Linked DNA regions of Homo sapiens: region 1 is linked to region 2. The links come from fine-mapping of genetic effects on gene expression. A gene starts in region 2. The other region holds a variant in brackets. All regions are shown on one strand. Distances are between the middles of the regions. Region 1 holds the start of ZNF653 (zinc finger protein 653). Region 2 holds the start of ELOF1 (elongation factor 1).

Region 1 (9,775 bases), 57 kb before region 2:
CAAGAGCAGGAACACTGCTGTTTTGCTCCTCCTGTACCCCCAGTGCCCCCAAAGGGCCTGGTTCATAGCAGGTGCTCCAGGAACATTTGCTGGATGAGAGAACGCTGCATAGCGGGCGGGCATGGTGGAGCCGGACCGCCTGGGTTTGAATCCTGGCTCTGCCCCTTCCAAGCTGGGTAGCTCCAGGCAAGTGACTTGGCTTCTCTGAGCCCCAGGTGCCTCCTCTAGGCTGGGGAGAATAAGGGATTCCCATCCCGGAGGGCTGCCAGGCAGGAGGAAGGGAGTGAAGACATCGCCAGGACACAGAACAAGGCTGGGCACACAGTGAGTGCTGGGAAATGGTATCTGACTCTTGTGATGGTCCTGGTCCCTCAGCCAAGTGCGAGGACAGCATGTCCCCCACTCCTACCCTGTGGGCCGGGAGATGAAGAGGGGCCCAGAAGAGGTGTTTGGGTCTAGGGAATGTGCTCACAGTCTCCAATCATGAGGGCAACAGAGTCGTCACCCACAGCCGCCTCTCCGGCCCAGCCCTTTCCCTCCTCAATGCGCTCCTCATCCCTTGAGGATTCAGGATCAAGGTCATAGCTCACCCCTGCCTCTGGAGAAACCTAAGAAGGGAGGGGCTCACTGCCACCAGCTGGCCTTCACCCTGCTGGACATGGCCTGGGACCCCCAGCTCCAGGGCTCAGAGCTGTGCAGACCCTGACAGTTCAAGCTCTCACCAACTGGTGGCCAGCAGGACAGGAGGAGCAAGCTCCAGACCTCCCCTCTAACCACCAGTGCTTGGCTCCCCCTGCCCTTAGGGCTCTGCAAAAGCTGTTCCCTCTGCTCGGCTCTCCCCTGGCTGACTCCCATGCCGGGAGCAAGAGAATGAGGGAGCCAAGGACACTGCGCCTGAGACACAAGACACGCAGACCCGGGTTTGAGGTCGGGCTCTGCTGGTTCCAACTGTGCTGCCTAGGGCAGCGACCTGGCCTCTCTGGGCCTCCATCTCCATATTCCCACCGCTCCCAACTCTCCCCACCTCCCCCAGGCTGAGCCTCCACTTACTTTTCTTCCGCTTTGGCTTTTTGGGGACCTGCTCCCAAGGCTTCCTGCAACAGAAAGAGGCAGAGAGGGTGAACGGGGGACCAGCGCTGGGCCTGTCTGACCCATGAGTAACAACAGTGGCTAGAGCCACTGCTCATTGTACACTGAAACTAAATCTGAACTTTTTGAGATGGAGTCTCACTGTGTTGCCCAGGCTAGAGTGCAGTGGTGAGATCTTGACTCATTGCAGCCTTTGCCTCCCAGGTTCCAGCGATTCTCCTGCCTCAGCCTCTCAAGTAGCTGGGATTACAGGTGCACGCCACCACACCTGGCTAATTTTTGTATGTTTAGTAGAGACGGAGTTTCACCATGTTGGCCAGGCTGGTCTCGAACTCCTGACCTCAGGTGATCCGCCCACCTCAGCCTCCCAAAGTGCTGGTATTACAGGCATGAGCCGCCACGCCTGCCCTGAACTTTTTTTTCTTTTTGAGACAATGTCTGTCTCTGTTGCCTAGGCTGGAGTGCAGTGGTGCGATCTCGGTTCACTGCAACCTCCGCCTCCCAGGTTCAAGTGATTCTCCTGCCTCAGACTCCTGAATAGCTGGGATTACAGACTAATTTTGTATTTTTAGTAGAGACGGGGTTTCACCATGTTGGCCATCCTGGTCTCAAGCTTCTGACCTCAGGTGATCCGCCCACCTCGGCCTCCCAAAGTGTTGGGATTACAGGCGTGAGCCACCGTGCCCAGCCTAGAATCTGAACTTCTATGTACCTTTCCCCAACTCCAGAACTGTGTCACCAGGCCCCTCCCTTGGACTCTCTCCCCAATTGCCATCAGCCCTGGGAGGGGGCTCTAGCATCATCCACCTCAAGGAGCAGGAAAAACAGGCTTGGAGGGGTGAGGCCATCTGCCCTGGGTCCCACAGTCAGGGAGCAGAGAAGTAACAAAGTGGGTATGAAAAGTTTGTGTGGAAGCAGAATTCCAAGATGGCCCCCACAGTTCTGCTGGGACACATGCCCTGTGTGATCCTCTTCCCCTGAGCGGGGCAGGCCTGTGAGTAGGACTGGATGTCAAGCCTTGGTTAGGTGACTGTGAGTTAATCAAACGGGAACATATCTTGTAGGGCACAGTGGCTCAAGCCTGTAGTCCCAGCTACTTGAGAGGCTGAGAGTGGTCTTGGCCCACAGCCAGCAAGACAGTGGGTACTGTCTGGGTGTGGTGTCTCACACCTGTAATTCTAGCACTTTGGGAGGCTGAGGCAGGAGGACTGCTTGAAGCCAGGGGTTCAAGACCAGCCTGGGCAACATAGCAAGATCCCACCTCTATTTATACAATTAAAAAAAAAAAAAAAAAAGGCCAGGCTCCGTGGCTCATTCCTGTAATCTCAGCACGTTAGGAGGTTAAGACGGGTGCATCGCTTGAGGCCAGAAGTTGGAGACCAGCCTGGGAAACACAGTGAAACCCCATCTCCACAAAAAATACAGAAATTACCCAGGCGGGGTGGCATGCACCTGTAGTCCCAGCTACTCAGGAGGTTAAGGTGGGAGGATCACCTGAGCCTGGGGAGGTCAAGGCTGCAGTGAGCTATGATCACACCACTGCACTCCAACCTGGGCAACAGAGTAAAACCGTGTCTCAAAAACAAAGAAACAAACAAAAACAAACAAAAAACGATCTTCGTCATGGTACAGCCCTGTCACTTAATCATCAATAAGCAAATGGTACAATGATCGTTATGATTATCAGTATCATCGTGGAGCCTGGGCCCCCTGGCCTCCCTGCTGTGGCCCAGACCTGCTCTTGCCACAAACATCCTGACAGCCAGTCTAGTGTCTCTTATCAGCAAAACTGTCCACCCCGTCTGACTCCTGCCCAGCCCTGTAACAATTCTCAGTCCCACACCCGTCTGGTTCCCAGGACTGCACCTTGGGGATCTTCCATCTTTCCTGCCCCAGGCTCTGCCCCTGCCTCTGGCTCTGCTACTCCAGGTCCCATTCCATGTGACTCTATCCCTTCCCATGGCTCCACCCTCCCCTGCAAAGCACCACACTGGCTGTAGAGACCTTCACCCAACCCAAGACCCAAGTCTGGCTCTGTCACCCAGGTTGGAGTGGAGTAGCACTATCTCAGTTCACTGCAACCTCTGCCTCCTGGGTTCAAGCGATTCTTCTGCCTCAGCCTCCTGAGTAGCTGGGATTATAGATGCCTGCCATCAGCCCAGCTAATTTTTCTATTTTTAGTAGAGACAGGATTTCGCTATGTTGGCCAGACTGGTCTCGAACTCCTGACCTCAAGTGATCTGCCTGCCTCAGCCTCCCAAAGTGCTGGGATTACAAGTGTAAGCCACCATGCCCTGCCCCAAACCCAAGTCCTGATGTCCACAGCCACCTCCATCCACTCACCGCTGGAGGCTGGGAGTGTCACATTGCAGTGGGGACAGTCTTGGGTATCAGCCAGACCCAAGTTCAAGACTCAGCTCTGCTCTCAACTGCCTGTGTGACCTCAAGCAGGTCTTGTCCCCTCTGAGCCTCAGTCTCCGTCTGTGAAGTGGAAATAGTAGTAGTGCTTCTGACACAGGGTCACCATGGGGACCAAACAAGGTCATATGTAACCTGGTGAGCGCCACTTTCCAACCCCCACACAGGGCTTTCTCCCTCAAACTGCCTTCCCTCTCCTGTCCACTTCTCCAACTTCTGCCACTTCTCTGTGACTCCCAGCAGAGGCCACTGGCATCAAGGACCACAGCTCCGGGGCTACTCAGGCCCTGGCTTGGCTGTTTCCCGCCATTTCCTTTCAGTCTTCAGTCATTCCCACCAGCATCTAAATATGCCATGATTTCTCCCATCTTGGGTTAAAATCATTTTGATACCCACCTTCCCCACCAGCCCCTTCCCCATATCTTTTTTTTTTTTTTTCTTTTTGAGACAGGCTCTCGTGGTGTTGCCCCAGCTGGAGTGCAGTGGCGCCATCACAGCTCACTGAAGCTTCGACCTCCAGGGCTCAACCGATCCTCTTGCCTCAGCCTCCTGAGTAGCTGGGACCACAGGCATGCACCACCACACCCGGCTAACTTTTGTACTTTTTGTAGAGATCGAGTTTCGCCATGTTGCCCAAGCTGGTCTCAAACTCCTGGGCTCAAGAGATCCTTCTGCTTCAGCCTCCCAAAGTGCTGGGATTACAGGTGTGAGCCACTAGCACCCAGCCTCCTTCTTCATTTCCCCGTTTTGTCACAGTTGTCTACACTCGCTGTCTCCATGTCCTCTCCTCCATCTCACTGGAACTCCTCCAGTCAGAGCTTTGCTCCATCACGTCACACACTCTCCCATCACAGTCACCAGTGACGGCTTCACTCGGCCCAACAGCACTGGACATGGC[A/G]GACACTTCCTTTGGCCTCCTGGGTGCTGCCACTGCCCAGTGCTCCACTGGCACCGGGCTGCTGCTTCTCCCTCACCTCCCTTACCAAGGAGAGCAACCGCCACACTCAGGCCTGTGTTTTCTGTCTAAAAGTATCCCTTTAGTAACTTTTTTTTTTCTTTTGAGATAGAGCCTCGCTCTGTTGCCCAGGCTGGAGTGCGGTGGCACGATCTTGGCTCACTGCAAACTCTGCCTCCTGGGTTCAAGTGATTCTCCTGCCTCAGCCTCCTGCGTAGCTGGGACTATAGGCGTGTGCCACCACGCCCAGCTAATTTTTGTATTTTTAGTAGAGACGGGGTTTCAATATGCTGGCCAGGCTGGTCTCGAACTCCTTACTTCGTGATTTGCTCACCTTGGCCTCCCAAAGTGCTGGGATTATAGGCGTGAGCCATCGCGCCTGGCCTATTTTTATTTTACTTTTTGAGACAGTCTTGCTCTATTGCCCAGGCTGGAGTACAGTGGCGCGATCTCGGCTCACTGCAACCTCCACCTCCCGGGTTCCAGTGATTCTCCTGCCTCAGCCTCCCAAGCAGCTGCGACTACAGGCGTGCGCCACCATGCCCGGCTAATTTTTGCATTTTTAGTAGAGACAGGGTTTTGGCCTATTGGTCAGGCTGGTCTCAAATTCCTGACCTCAAGAGATCCACCTGCCTTGGCCTCCCAAAGTGCTGGGATTACAGGCGTGAGCTACCATGCCTGGTCTTCCTTTTTTTTATTTTAATTGTTGACAAGAGTCATGAACCTCCTTGGACTCATCATCAGCTTTAACAATTGTTAACTCTTGGCCAACCTTGTATCACAATGTGTACCCCATCCATTCTTCAAGCCACACACATCCTAGAGACAGTTTCTTCTAAAATACAAACCAGGCTGTGTGTGACTTGTAGTCCCAGCTACTCTGGAGGCTGAGGTGGGAGGATCTCTTGAGTCCAGGAGTTCAAGACCAGCCTGGGCAATATAGCAAGACTGCATCTCAAAAATAAATAAACAAATAAATAAGGAAATAAAAGGCCAGGCCCAGGCCCGGGTATGGTTTCATCTTTACATTTAAATCTGCAACCCCGCCGGGCGCAGTGGCTCACACCTGTAATCCCAGCACTTTGGGAGGCCGAGGCAGGCAGACCTCTTGAGGTCAGGAGTTCGAGACCAGCCTAGCCAACATGGCGAAACCCCGTCTCTACTAAAAATACAAAAATTAGCCGGGCATGGGGGTGCACGCCTGTAATCCCAGCTACTCGGGAGGCTGAGGCAGGAGAATCGCTTGAACGCGGGAGGCAGAGGTTGCAGTGAGCTGAGGCTGCGCCAATGTACTCCAGCCTGGGTAACAGAGCAAGACTCCATCTCAAAAAAAAAAAAGGTGGGGGGGGCATCAGGGGAAATAAAGGCAGACCATACCACTTCTTTCTCTGTACAAAATCTTGCACTTAAGAAAAGGCTCCCACCTCACTGGGAGGAAAAACTGGAGTCCTCTCCATGGCTCTGGATGACCTTCCCTGTCACCAATCTGTCCTTGTCTTCCCTTCTCCCCCTCACTCATTGCAGTCCAGCCACACAAGCCTCTTCAGTGTTCCTGGCACACAATAGGCAGGGTCCTGCCTCAGGACCTTTGCCTTTGCTATTCCCTCTGCCTCAACTCTTCCCCAGAGATCTGCATGGCTCCTCCTAGGTTCCTTCATGTCTTTACTGAAATGCTATCTTCTGAATGTGACCACCTTAACTCCCTATTTAAACTTCCAACTCACACTCTTCATTTCACTTTTGTTTTTTCCGTAGCCCCTATCTCTCATGGACGATACAATTTACTTATGTTTCTGGTCTGCAGTAAACAAGCCTTTTGCCAGGTATGGTGGCTCATGACTTTAATCCCAGCACTTCGGGAGGCTGAGGACGGAGGATCCCTTGAGCCGAGGAGTTCGTGACCAGCCTGGGCAACATGGCGAGACCCCCATCTCCATGAAAAATTAAAAAATTAGCCAGGTGAGGTGGCTCCTCTGTAGTCCCAGCTACTTGGGAGACTGAGGCAGGAGGATCCCTTGAGCCTGGGAGGTTGAGGCTGCTGTGAGCTATGAACATGCCACTGTACTCTGGCCTGGGTGACAAAGTGAGACCCTGTCTCAAGAACAAACAAACAGGGCTGGGCACAATGGCTTACACCTGTAATCCCAGCACTTTGAGAGGCTGAGGCCGGAGAATCACTTGAGCCTAGGAGTTTGAAATCAGCCTGGGCAACACAGGGAAACCTCTGTCTCTACAAAAAATACAAAAATTAGCCAGGTGGAGTGACGTGCACCTGTGGTCCCAACTACTCAGGAGGCGGAGGTAAGAGGATCACTTGAACCCACGAGGTTGAGGCTGCAGTAAGCCGTGATCATGCCACTGCATTCCACTCTGGGCGAGAGAGTGAGACCCTGTCTCAAAAAGAAAAACGAGGGCCGGGCGCGGTGGCTCACGCCTGTAATCCCAGCACTTTGGGAGGCCGAGGCGGGTGGATCACGAGGTCAGGAGATCGAGGCCATCCTGGCTAACAGAGTAAAACCCTGTCTCTACTAAAAATACAAAAAATTAGCCGGGCGTGGTGGCGGGCGGCTGCAGTCCCAGCTACTTGGGAGGCTGAGGCAGGAGAATGGCGTGAACCCGGGAGGCGGAGCTTGCAGTGAACGGAGATCGTGCCACTGCACTCCAGCCTGGGCGACAGAGCAAGACTCTGTCTCAAAAAAAAAGAAAAGAAAAGAAAAACGAACAAAAAAACCCCCCAGACCTTTGAACAAGCCATCCCCTCTGCCCACCAGAATGTCCGCTCCATGAGGCAGGTATCTTTGCGCTCCCAGCATTTCCAGTCCTGCTCTTGAGCATATAAGCCAGCCTGCTGTCCTGGGAAAGGGGTGGGTATAACTTAGCAGGATCTGTTTGATTCTTGACTCTCAGAATCTCCCCCCAGAGAAACATGAGAACATGTGTACCTGAAAACCAGGGCAGAACAAGGATTTCCTTGCGGCACTGCTTGTGATACGGAATAAACGTCATCCTCGTAAAAGTTAATACTTAGGGAACCCACTACCTGCCAGGCACTCTTCTAAGCTCTTTGCCTATTTTAACTCAATCATCACATCAACATATAAGGCAGGAAGGGAAAAACTCCATCCACACTGCTCCTTCTCAAGACTGAGAATTTACAAAGACAGGCCTCTCTGCCCTCCACCTGCCAAGCTAACTAGGGGTTTCCTCTTCATCCGAGTCTCCCTGGGCTGAGTTGCTTCACAGAAATAGGTTTAGGGGAGTGCAGTCCAGGTTGTGAAGGGTCCCCCGGATGTGTTGGATCTAGGGTTGTGGGAATGGGGCCATACGGAGTCCCAGATGGGGCACCAGAACTTCAAGAAGGGCAGGGCTGAGTGCCCCAGGGTGTCCAGAGTCCCAGGCCAGGTGGGGAACTAAGCGGGGGAGGATGAGACCGGTGAGGGGGCGGGGCTGCCCCCCCAGGGCCTGGTTAGTTACAAGGCCTGGAGGTGGGGCCAGTCCCAGGATTGGGCCGCCAGAGTTCTAGCGGGCGGGGCCAAGCGCTCAGAAGGCGGGTCGAGGGGCTGGGTGCACCCTAGGATTGGGCAGTCGGAACGATGGGAGGCGGGGCCACGAGCCAGGCGCGTCCCGGCCAGGCAGTACGAGACCCAGGCCGCCGGCCCGGCTCCTGGGCGGGGTCCGCAGGTGCCGGGGGCTGGCCCTAGAAGCGGAGGGGGCGGGGTAAAGCCCGGCGGGGTCTGGGGGCGTCTCCTCCCTCCCTCCCTCGGGGCCAGGCCCCCTCACCCGTGGCGGCCGCTCCGCTGGCCGCGCTCCAGAGAGATGAGGTAGGCGGCGAGCTTGGCGTCGCTCCAGCCGCTGCGGCGCCGCAGGTCCACCCAGGGCCCGTGCGCCTCGCCCAGGTACACGCGCCGCACGTCGTACTTCTTCCGGGACTCGAGCCGTCGCCGGGCCCGGTCCGACTCCGTGAGTCGCGGCCGGCCCCGCGCCTTTCGGCCCGCTGCGCCCTCCTCGGCTGCTGCCTCCCCGCCCGCGCCCGCCTCAGCCTCCGCCTCCGCCTCGGGCTCTAGCGCCCGCTCCGCCATCCCCCCCACCCTGGTTACCAGCCTCCCCCGTTGTTAGGAGCCAGACCGGAAGTGGCGCGCATCTTCGGCGCCGCCGAGAAATTTCTCACGGTCTCTCGCTGCCCCAGGGCGCCAAAAGGAGACCAAGAATGGAAACTGCGCATGCGCACAACCAACAGCGCTCCCGCCCCTTTTTATTTGAATTCGGAGAACCAGAGGCGCCTGCAGATTCTGGAGGGGTCTCGCCTGCCCATCGCTGGCAGCCCGAGATCCTGGGGAGGGGATGCCATACTGCTAGAGATGAGGGAAGAGAGCCCCAAGCAGGAAAACATTGATTTGCTGTACACTCAAAGGGCATCTCATGCCTTCAGTCCACCGCCTCCTCGGGCCACAGCCCGTGCCCTCGCGCCGGCTCAGACTAGCTCTGGCCCTGCTGCTGTCGCTGCAGGTTGTCGTCTTCTTCCTGGTGGTCCTCGGGCAGGGGCGGCTCCTCCAGCCCTGCAGAGGATGTCTGGAGCTCCCGGGTGGACCCGGCGAGGCGGAAGACCACGGGGATCTGGGCCAGGGTTGGGTTGGTCTCCTGCAGGCCCTGGATCCACTTAGCCATCGTCGCCTGGTCATGAGCACCCGCCATGCACATGGCGAAGACAGGGCCTTCCTCCACTGTTGGAAGACATGCACCCTTAAGGTTTGCACAGTGGGGGCTGCAGCGGCTAACCCATGCCTACACCTTTTTGAGGTATTTTACACTCCCTTCCACTTCCTTTTTTTTTTTTTTTTTTTTTTTGAGACGGAGTCTCGCTGTGTCACCCAGGCTGGAGTGCAGTGGCGAGATCTCGGCTCACTGCAACATCCGCCTCCCAGGTTCAAGTGATTCTCCTGCCTCGGCCTCCCGAGGAGCTGGGATTACAGGTGCACAGCACCACGCCGGGCTAATTTTTAAATTTTTAGTAGAGATGGGGTTTCACCATGTTGGCCAGGCTGGTCTCGAATTCCTGACCTCAAATGATCTACCCGCCTCAGCCTCCCAGAGTGCTGGGATTACAGGCGTGAGCCACTGTGCCCGGCTTCCTTCCACTTTCTTGTGCCTCCAAACCTTTGCACAAGCTAGCCCCGCTGCCTAGGCTGCCCACTCCACACTTCACCCGGGCGATGACTCCTGGTTTTTCTGTATTCTGCCAGGAAGGCCTCCTGACCCCCCACTCAAGGCATGCTCCTCTCCTAAGCTCCCCAAAGTGTAATTTGCCTGTTCCCT
Region 2 (9,775 bases):
CTTGCCCTGTTCCCCACTCACATTTTCACATCACAGGATTTCTCGTGGTTGCAGAAGGGGCAGGTGAACTGGGTCTCGAGGGTGCCTGTCATCTTCTTCTTGGGAGGCGGCTTTCGTTTTGACTTTCTGCGCCCCATGTCTGCAGGTGGATGAGCCTGTGGGGAGTGGCAGATGTCAGTGGTTTGAGGAAACCACGCAGCGCCCCAGCTCAATGCTCTAGAAAGCAGGCCGGAAAGAGGGTCTGGGACTTGCACCGTGGTCCCGGGGCCTCTGCCCTTGAGGGACGAGGCCCTCAGTCCTGATGCAGGAGGACAATTCCCTGTCCCACTCTGGATGGAAGGGGTGAGACGAGGCTCTAACCCCATCTCTCTCACTTACTGCGTGACCTGGGCAGGTTATTTAAGCTCTTTGTGCCACAGTTTCCTCGTCTATAAAACAGAGACAAGGCCAGGCATGGTGGCTCACACCTGTGATCCCAGCCAGCACTTTGGGAAGCTAAGGTGAGAGGATTACTTGATGCCAGGACCTGGATACCAGCCTGGGCAACATAGTGAGGCCTCATCTCTAAAAAAAAAAAATTAAAAATTAGCCAGGCATGGTGGTGCAGGCCTGTAGTCCCAGCTACTTGGGAGGCTGAGATGGGAGGATCGCTTGAGCCCAGGAGTTTCAGGTTTCAGTGATGATCCAGAGTTATGATCCAGGCACTGCACTCCAGCCTAGGCAACAGGATGAAACCCTGCATAAAAAAAAAAAAAGAAAAAAAAAAGGCCAGGTGTGGTGGCTCACACTTGTAATCCCAGGACTTTGGGAGGCTGAGGCGGGCGGATCACGAGGTCAGGAGTTCGAGACCAGCCTGACCAACACGGTGAAACCCCATCTCTACTAAAAATACAAAAATTAGCTGGCCATAGTGGCAGGCACCCGTAACCCCAGCTACTCAGGAGGCTGAGGCAGGAGACTCACCTGAACCCAAGAGGCGGAGACTGCAGTGAGCCGAGATCGCACCATTGCACTCCAGCCTGGGCAACAGAGCAAGACTCCGTCTCAAAAAAAAAAAAAAAAAAAAAGTCGAAATAAGGTTGCTATCTCAGAGGAGACTTGTGGGGCTGACACCAGGAATGGTAAGTTAAGTACTTAGCACAGAGCTGGCCCATCATCGCTGGCGCCAATACAAGGAAGCCACTGTTCCTGGGGAGGGTGGCACAAGAGACTCCAAGACAAGCCAGCTGTTCAGGGCCGGGTGGAGCCTAAGAGCCTAGGAACTGGTGATTTTATTCTGGCTGCTCCTCTTGGCAAAGGACATGTAAGTACCATCCAGGAGGAGTGACACTCAGGTTATCTGATGGCCTCGATCCAGATGACAGACTGCAGGGCAGAGAAGTGGGGACAGGCACTTCTGAGTAGAGGAACACTGTGTGAAGGCTCAGGGCAGCTGTCCGTCCCCTGGCAGGTGAGGGAGAGAGGAGGGACAGGTGGGAGGGTTCTGGGTGTTTGGATGGATCCTGGGAGCTACAAGGAGTGAAAGGACAAAGTCACCCTGTGCTTTTGAGGAACTGCGGTGTGAGCCATAATCTGGATGAAGACAAAGTCACAGCCAGGACAGGGCTGTTGGGGTAGAGATGGCAGAGGGTGAGAGAGACAGAGGAGACATGGCGGCAGAGTGAGTGAGTGTGACGAGAGAAGGAAAGTCCAGGATGACTCCCAAGGTTGTGGCGGGGACATAGTGGCTAGAGGGACAAGGTGGCATCATTCTCTGATGTCTAACACATAGGAAGGACAGGGTTTTGGAGAAAATGATGGGGTTGGGTGGCAGAGGGATATCTAGGAACAGATGTCCAGGAGGCAGGTGGGTGGGGAAACGGCAGCAGTTACCACTGAGCCCAACTCCCCTGCGAGGCACGGTGCTCAGGGCACTGTGTTTGCCATCCCTGAGCCTCCTATGGCGCCTCCTCCAACACACACACACACGACTGCTGGTTCTAGCATCGTTCCACTGTGACGGGGAGGTCAGCAGCCTGCCAGTGTCTTCCAGAATAAACAGTGGAGTTTCATTCATTATCTGCTGATCACTTCCTATGTAATACCCCCAACTCTTTCTTTTTTTTTTGAGATGGAGTCTTGCTCTGCCGCCCAGGCTGGAGTGCAGTGGCATGATCTCGACCCACTGCAACCTCCACCTCCCGGCTTCAAATGATTCTCCTGCCTCAGCCTCCCGAGTAGCTGGGAGTACAGGCATGCACTACCACGCGTGGCTAATTTTTTGTATTTTTAGTAGAGATGGGGTTTCACCGTGTTAGCCAGGATGGTCTCGATCTCCTGACCTCGTGATCCGCCTGTCTCGGCCTCCCAAAGTGCTGGGATTACAGGCGTGAGCCACCACGCCCAGCCAACACCCCCAACTCTTAACTGTGATGCTTCCAGTTCACTGAGTAAATAGAAGCAATCCAAAGACAGCTCCTAGGACCAACTCATTCAGCCATTCACCCACCCTCTTTATTTATCTAAGAGATGAGGTCTTGCTCTGTTGCCCAGGCTGGAGTGCAGTGGCATGATCACAGCTTGCTAAAGCCTCAATCCTCTGGCCTCAGCCTGCTCAGTAGCTGGGACAACAGGTGTGCACCACCATGCCCAGCTTCGGCATGCCTCCTTTACTATGGAAGTAAGTTCCTGCAAAAACAATTTGTTCATTCTGCCCTGGCTCCCATCCCCTTTTCTTTGAGCAACATCAAATTTTCCAGCTCCACTGGATCACTCTCACACACTTGTTATTACCTCTCTCCTCATTTAAAAAGGGGGAAAAAAAAACTCTTCATCCTCTTCCAGCTATGATCCTTTTCTCTGCAGGCTGTTTTAGTGTACAGCCATCTGCATTCCCACCCATCTCTCTGCACCCCTTGCCTCCAAACTTAGGTTACTGGTGGCTCCATACTGCAAATCCCAATGGCAGTCCTCCCATTCCAGAGGTCCTTCCTCCCCTGAGAGCACATGTGGCTCTCAGGATGCCATGTGCTCCCTGTCCTCTGCCTCACTGGTGGCTCCTGCTAGTCTCCTATGCTCCTGCCTCTCTGCCAACTTGCTCCAATGAAGAGAGCACGTGAGTTTGGGCCAGGCGCTGTGGCTCACGTTTATAATCCCAGCACTTTGGGAGGCCAAGGTGGGCAGATCACTTGAGGTTAGGAGTTGGAGACCAGCCTGGCCAACATGGTGAAACCCCATTTCTACTAAAAATACAAAAATTAGCTGGGCGTGGTGGCACATGCCTGTAATCCCAGCTAATAGAGAGGCTGAGGCAGGAGAATCGCTTGAACCTGGGAGTCGGAGGTTTCAGTGAGCTGAGATTGTGCCACCGCACTCCAGCCTGGGCAACAGAGCAAAACTTCATCTAAAAAAAAAAAAAAAAAAGGCTGAGTGCAGTGGTTCACGCCTGTAATCCCAGCACTTTGGGAGGCCGAGGTGGGCAGATCACGAGGTCAGGAGTTCGAGACCAGCCTGACCAACATGGTGAAACCCCATCTCTACTAAAAATACAAAAATTAGCCAGGCATGGTGGTGCACGCCTGTAATCCCAGCTACTCGGGAGGCTGAGGCAGGAGAATCACTTGAACCTGGGAGGCGGAGGTTGCAGTGAGCCGAGGCACTCCAGCCTGGGCAACAGAGCAAAAAGCCCATGAGTTTAATTGTTGGATCCTCTCCTTTCTGGCTATACTCACCACATGAAGATTTCACCCAGTCTTAGGGCTTCATGCCTACTCTACACTGAGGCCACCTGCTTCTCCAGCCTTGAGTCTGAACTGCAGACTCTGATCTATCTGCCTCAGCCACACCTCCACCTGATGTCTAACTTCCACCTAAGATTAAACATATCATGTCCAAAACCAAGCCCCTGACATTGCAACCTGCTCTTCCAGTCTTCCTCATCTCAGCTAACAGCAATTCCATCTTTCCGGATAATCAAATCAGAAACCTTGGATTCATCCTCAATGTCTTTTTCCCTCACACATTCCTTATGCGATCCTCCCCCTGCCCCTCTACCTCTGAAATATAAATTAGCCGCGGCACCACGCCCAGCTAATTTTTGTATTTTTTGTAGAGACAGGGACCCACCATGTTGCCCAGCCTGGTCTGGAACTCCTGGGCTCAAGAGATACTCCCGCCTCGGCCTCCCAAAGTGCTGGCGTTACAAGCATGAGCCACCGTGCCCAGCAATAACCATTACTGAATAAATCACTCAATCAGTTTGCTTGTAACTCTATCACTTTGGGACGTCACGCCCGTAATCTCATCACTTTGGGAGGCCCAGGTGGGAAGATCGCTTGAAGCCAGGAGTTCCAGACCAGCCTGGGAAACAGAGTGAGACCCTTCATCTCTACAAAATTACAAAAATTAGCCTTGAGTCTGTAGTCCCAGCTACTCGGCAAGCTGAAGTGGGAAGCTTGCGCCCAGGAGGTCGAGGCTGCAATGAGCTATGATCGCGCCACTGCACTCCAGCCTCGGCGACACAGCAAGACTCACTCTCAAAAAAAAAAAAAAAAGTCCAAACAAAATCTACGGATGAGCCCCAGAAGCTCATTTTGCCCAGGGACTACAGTCTCCCCATCCCATGAATGGGGTCTGGCTTGCACAAGGAATGCAGAGGCCTCAGCCTGTCCTGTGACAACGTTAAGTCCAAGAGCGCCAAAAGGGGATGGCAGAGGAGTCATCCCCCGAATCTGCTGGTACCCAAGAGGTGGGGGGTTGGCTGTTCCTCCAGACTCACTAAAGCTTCGGCATCGCCTCCCGACGGCCGCCGGGAGGAGCCAGGCGTCCCGGTAGTCGCGCTTGGAAGGATGGGGTCGGGGGGAGTCAGTCTCCCCGACCGGCTTTCCCCCAAGCTCGAGGTCCCAGGAGCCTCCTCCAGGACCCCGTAAACGCACGGAGTAGAGGAACTTCCAGTCCTGCCCACCCCCAACGCCCACTCGCACGAGCCGCACCAGCACTCACCTTCTCCAGCTGCGAAAGCTCCGTTCACCCGGGAGATAGTGACTTCCGACTCCTGCCGGAAGCGGAAACCCCTCTCCTACTTTCAGGTCCCGGCCACCCCCATCCCGGACAGCCCAGCAAATAGGCCCTGCCTCCTTCGCCGCTCCTCTGAGCGCACGCGTACTCAAATAGCAGCGCTCCGACGGAGACGCAGTGCGCCTGCGCAAGAGCCGGTGCGTATTTGCCTGTACCTACGCGCGATGCCAGTACTTCTGGTCAGTTTCCAGGAGCGGCAAGTGAGGAATATGAAATAACCTTATGGCTGAATCAGGGTGAAGGGGAAGCTTGTAAGCATGGAAGACGCTCTACTCAAACTAAAAAGTTCAAGTTCTGATCCAGCAGATGAAGAGGGAGGCCTGAGAGGCTGCTGTTCTAACTCGCTCCCAGGTGACTTCCATGCTGCTGATCCGCAGACCACATTTTGAGTGCCCAGATTGTAGTAGATGAGGTTGAGTGGACAGGCTGGGGCCAGATTCCATGGAGCCTCGTGGGCCGTGTTAAGGATTTTTATTTTTTATTTTTGTTTTATTTTATTTTATTTTTTTGAGACGGAGTCTCACTTTGTCGCCCAGGCTGGAGTGCAGTGGCTCGATTTCGGCCCACTGCAACCTCCGCCTCCCAGGTTCAAGTGATTCTCCTACCTCAGCCTCCCGAGTAGCTGGGATTACAGGCGCCGGTCACCGCGCCCGGCTAATTTTTGTAGTTTTTTTTTTTTTTTTTTTTTTGAGTAGGGATGGGGTCTCACCATCTTGGCCAGGCTGGTCTTGAACTCCTGACCTCGTGATCCACCCGCCTCGGCCTCCCAAAGTGCTGGGATTACAGGCGCGATCCACCCGCCTCGGTCTCCCAAAGTGCTGGGATTACAGGCGTGAGCCACCGCGCCCGGCCAAGGACTTTTATTGGTTTTTATTTTTGGTTTTGTTTTTTTCTGAGACAGGGTTTCGCTCCGTCGCCCAGGCTGGAGTGCAGTGACGCCATATGGGCTCACTGCAACCTTAGCCTCCCGGGTTCAAGCGATCCTCCTGCCTCAGCCTCTTAAGTAGCTGTGATTACAGGTGCGCACTACCATGCCTGGCTAATTTTTGTATTTTTAGTAGAGATGGGGTTTCACCATGTTGGTCAGGCTGGTCTCGAACTCCTGACCTCAAGTGATCCATCCACCTCGGCCTCTCAAATTGTTGGGATTACAGGCATGAGCCACCACACCTGGCCTGAAAAAGATATTTCAAGATGGAGAGAGAGAGGGGTTAGCTGTGTCACGTGTCCCTGAGTTGAAGAAGATGAGGAAAGAGAATTGACAGTTGAGTTTGGCAAGGGTCTGGTCCCTGCGGACCTTGATAAGAGCTGTTGCATTAGAGTGTTCAGGAAGATAATTTGTAATGAAATGTATTTCGAATACAGATGCTCTTTGATTTACGATGGGGTTACATCCCGATAAACCTATCATAATCAAGTCAGGGGCTGTCTGTAGAGGGATCTCTAGGATATCCCCTAGGGGGCAGTGTTACCCTGGTAACCGTCAAGTGTAACCAGTAGAACTGCCCTCTTGTGAGACCCTTTTTCAGTGCTGGAGCAAACTAGAATACACACAGGATGGAATCATACTATACAGTTACCGTGCAACTTGCTATTTCCACTTAACCATCTATACACGTATACCTAACTTTTGTTTTTAGTAGCTACATGATTCATAGTGCAACTCTGCCATAGTATAATCAACGGTTATCCTACTGATGGACAATTCCTGGACTTTCCTGAGTTTTGCCACTGTGATGATGCAGTAAATGTCCCTGAATCAGTATCCTTAAGACTGGATCTTTAGTGAAGCATAGTTTTCAAAAAATGACATTTGTGAGTACAGTGTCTCACCCCAGTAACCCCAGCACTTTGGGAGGCCGAGGTGGGAGGACTGCTTGAGCCCAGGAGTTTGAGGCTAGCATGGGCAACATAGTGAAATCCTGTCTCTAAAAATAAAATAAAATAAAATAAAAAACAATAAATGATGGCCGGGTATGGTGGCTCACACCTGTAATCCCAGCACTTTTTTGTTTTTGCTTTTTTTTTTTTTTTTTTGAGACAGAGTCTTGCTCTGTGGCCCAGGCTGGAGTGCAGTGGCGTGATCTCGGCTCACTATAACCTCCACCTCCTGGATTCAAGCAATTCTCCTGCCTCAGCCTCCTGAGTACCTAGGATTACAGGTGTGCGCCAACATGCCTGGCTAATTTTTGTATTTTTAGTAAAGATGGGGTTTCACCATGTTGGCCAGGCTGGTCTTGAACTCCTGACCTCGTGATCTGCCTGCCTTGGCCTCCCAAAGTGCTGGGATTACAGGCGTGAGCCACGGCGCCTGGCCCATCCCAGCACTTTGGGAGGCCAAGACGGGTGGATAACCTGAGGTCAGGAGTTCAAGACTAGCCTGACCAACATGGTAAAACCTTGTCTCTACTAAAAATACAAAAATTAGCTGGGCATGGTGGCAGGCACCTGTAATCCCAGCTACTCAGGAGGCTGAGGCAGGAGAATCACTTGAACCCCGGGAGGCAGAGGTTGCAGTGAGCCGAGATCGCGCCACTGCACTCCAGCCTGGGCAACAAGAGTGAAACTCCATCTCAAAAAAAAAAAAAAAACAAAGACATTGAGTCACAGGATGTATATATCTTTCATTTTGTTCATGATTGCCACATTAGTTTTCTCTTTTTCTCTCCTTTCATCCCTTCCCTCTCTTACTTCCCTCCTTCCCAGCTTTGTTGGATGTAATTGACTGAACATGAACTGCTCATATTTAAACCATGCCTGGCCGAAATTGCATGTTTTGACATACAGGTATATCATTAAAACATGACCATAATCAAGACAATTATTTCCATCACCCTAAGAAATTTCCTCTTACCAGTAGCCGAGTGTGATGGCTCATGCCTGTAATCCTAGCACCTTGGGAGGCCGAGGTGTGCGAATCACGTGAAGACAGGAGTTTGAGACCAGCCTGGGCAACACGGTGAGACCCCTTGTAGTCTCCACTACAAATACAAAAATTAGCCAGACATAGTGGCACACGCCTGAAGTCCCAGCTACTAGCGAGGCTGAGGCTGGAGAATCACTTGAACCCGGGAGGCGGAGGCTGCAGTGAGCCAAGATTGTGCCACTGCACTCCAGCCTGGGTGACAGATCAAGACTCAGTCTTAAAAAAAAAAAAATAAGAAAAAAAAGAAATTTTTCTCTTGCCCTTTTGTGCTCTGTCCCCTACTCCAGCCCCTGGCCCTAACTGATTTGTTTTTGGTTCCTGTAACTTTGTCTTTTTCAGAAAGTCATATAAGCTGAATCATACAACGTGTAGCCTTTTGAGCTGGGCTTCTTTCCCCAGCATAAGATGTTTGAAACTCACTCATGTTCCCAGCATTTTGGGAGGCCAAGGCGGGTGGATTGCTTGAGGTCAGAAGTTCAAGACCAGCCTGGCCAACATGGTGAAACCCCATTTCTACTAAAAATACAAAAATTAGCTGGATGTGTTGGTGTGCGCCTGTAATCCCAGCTACTTGGGAGGCCAAGCCAGGAGAATCACTTGAAACCAGGAGGCGGAGGTTGCAGTGAGCCGAGATCACGCTATTGCACTCCAGCCTGGGCAACAGAGCCAGACTCTGTCTCAAAAAAAAAAAAAAAGAAAAAAAGGAACTCACTCGTGTTGTTGGATATGTCAGCAGTTTGTTTCTTTTTTGTTTTCTTTTGAGATGGGGTCTCACTCTGTCACCCAGACTGGAGTGCAGTGGCACCATCATGGTTCACTGTAGCCTCAACTTCCCAGGCTCCAGCAGTCCTCCCACCTCAGCTTCCCGAGTAGCGGGGATTACACCTGTGCACCACCACGCCCAGTTAATTTTTGTGTTTTTTGTAAAGACAAGGTTTTGCCATGTTGCCCAGGCTGGTCTCGAACTCCTGGACTCAAGCAATCCACCTGCCTTGGCCTTTCAAAGTGCTTGGATTATAGGCATGATTATTATTCAGTTGTATTCTGTTATATGAATGTCCCACACTTTGTTTATCTTTTCACCTGTTAGTGACCTGTTTTTTGCATTGTTGCCGGTTGTTGAACAATTATTAGAGCTGTTATGAACCATTTCTTTCATTTTGAGGGTGGCAGATGACACCACTCCAAAATATGCCACTTTGGCATATGGATTGTTTCAGCTAAGTGCACTTGAAAAACAGTAGGTGCAGGAAAAGCACTCTGACCTCCCTCTTTTCTCTGGAAAACGAGATAAACCCCCATATGGAAGATGCCCTCCCCATCCCAGGAAGAAAGTAAAATTCTTTTTAGACAGGGTCTCATCCTGTTGCCCAGGCTGGAGCGAAGTGGTGTGATATCCACTTCCTGCAACCTCACTGCAACCTCCACCTCCTAGTCTTAAGCGATCCTCTCGCCTTGTCCCCAAAATAGCTGGGATCACAGGCGCCCACCACCATGCCCAGCTAATTTTTTTGTATTTTTGGTAGACACAGGGTTTCACTAAGTTGCCTAGGCTGGTGTCCAGCTCCTGAGCTCAAGTGATCCACCCGCTTCTGCCTCCCAAAGTGCTGGGATTACAGGCCTGAGCCACCGCGCCCAGCCCTAGAGCGTACAATTCTTATCACCAGAAGACAGGGAGTCAAAGCTGAGGAAAAAATGTACAAACAAACCTTGTTAAATGAACCCTTATTTTTCTAGTTATTTTTCCACCATTAACTGCTCTAGCCCAAACCCCTTTGTCTTGTCACATTTTCA

The links. PIP is the estimated chance that this variant, and not a neighbour inherited with it, causes the effect.
Region 1: its variant is fine-mapped to the expression of ELOF1 in esophagus mucosa (GTEx, PIP above 0.99).

Annotation. Positions count from the first base shown.
Region 1 is chr19:11,497,246-11,507,020 of GRCh38, forward strand. It overlaps ZNF653 (zinc finger protein 653), which reads right to left and starts at 8,594. Exons shown (of 9, transcript NM_138783.4): 1 at 8,243-8,594; 2 at 1,051-1,094. The coding sequence starts at 8,541. ECSIT (ECSIT signaling integrator) reads right to left here. Exons shown (of 8, transcript NM_016581.5): 8 at 8,684-9,183. The coding sequence ends at 8,939. RefSeq lists an enhancer at 7,690-7,759 and silencers at 7,910-8,579, 8,740-8,789. The variant A/G (reference allele first, on the strand shown) is at 4,406.
Region 2 is chr19:11,554,211-11,563,985 of GRCh38, forward strand. It overlaps ELOF1 (elongation factor 1), which reads right to left and starts at 5,020. Exons shown (of 4, transcript NM_032377.4): 1 at 4,981-5,020; 2 at 22-155. The coding sequence starts at 137. RefSeq lists enhancers at 216-415, 6,344-6,638.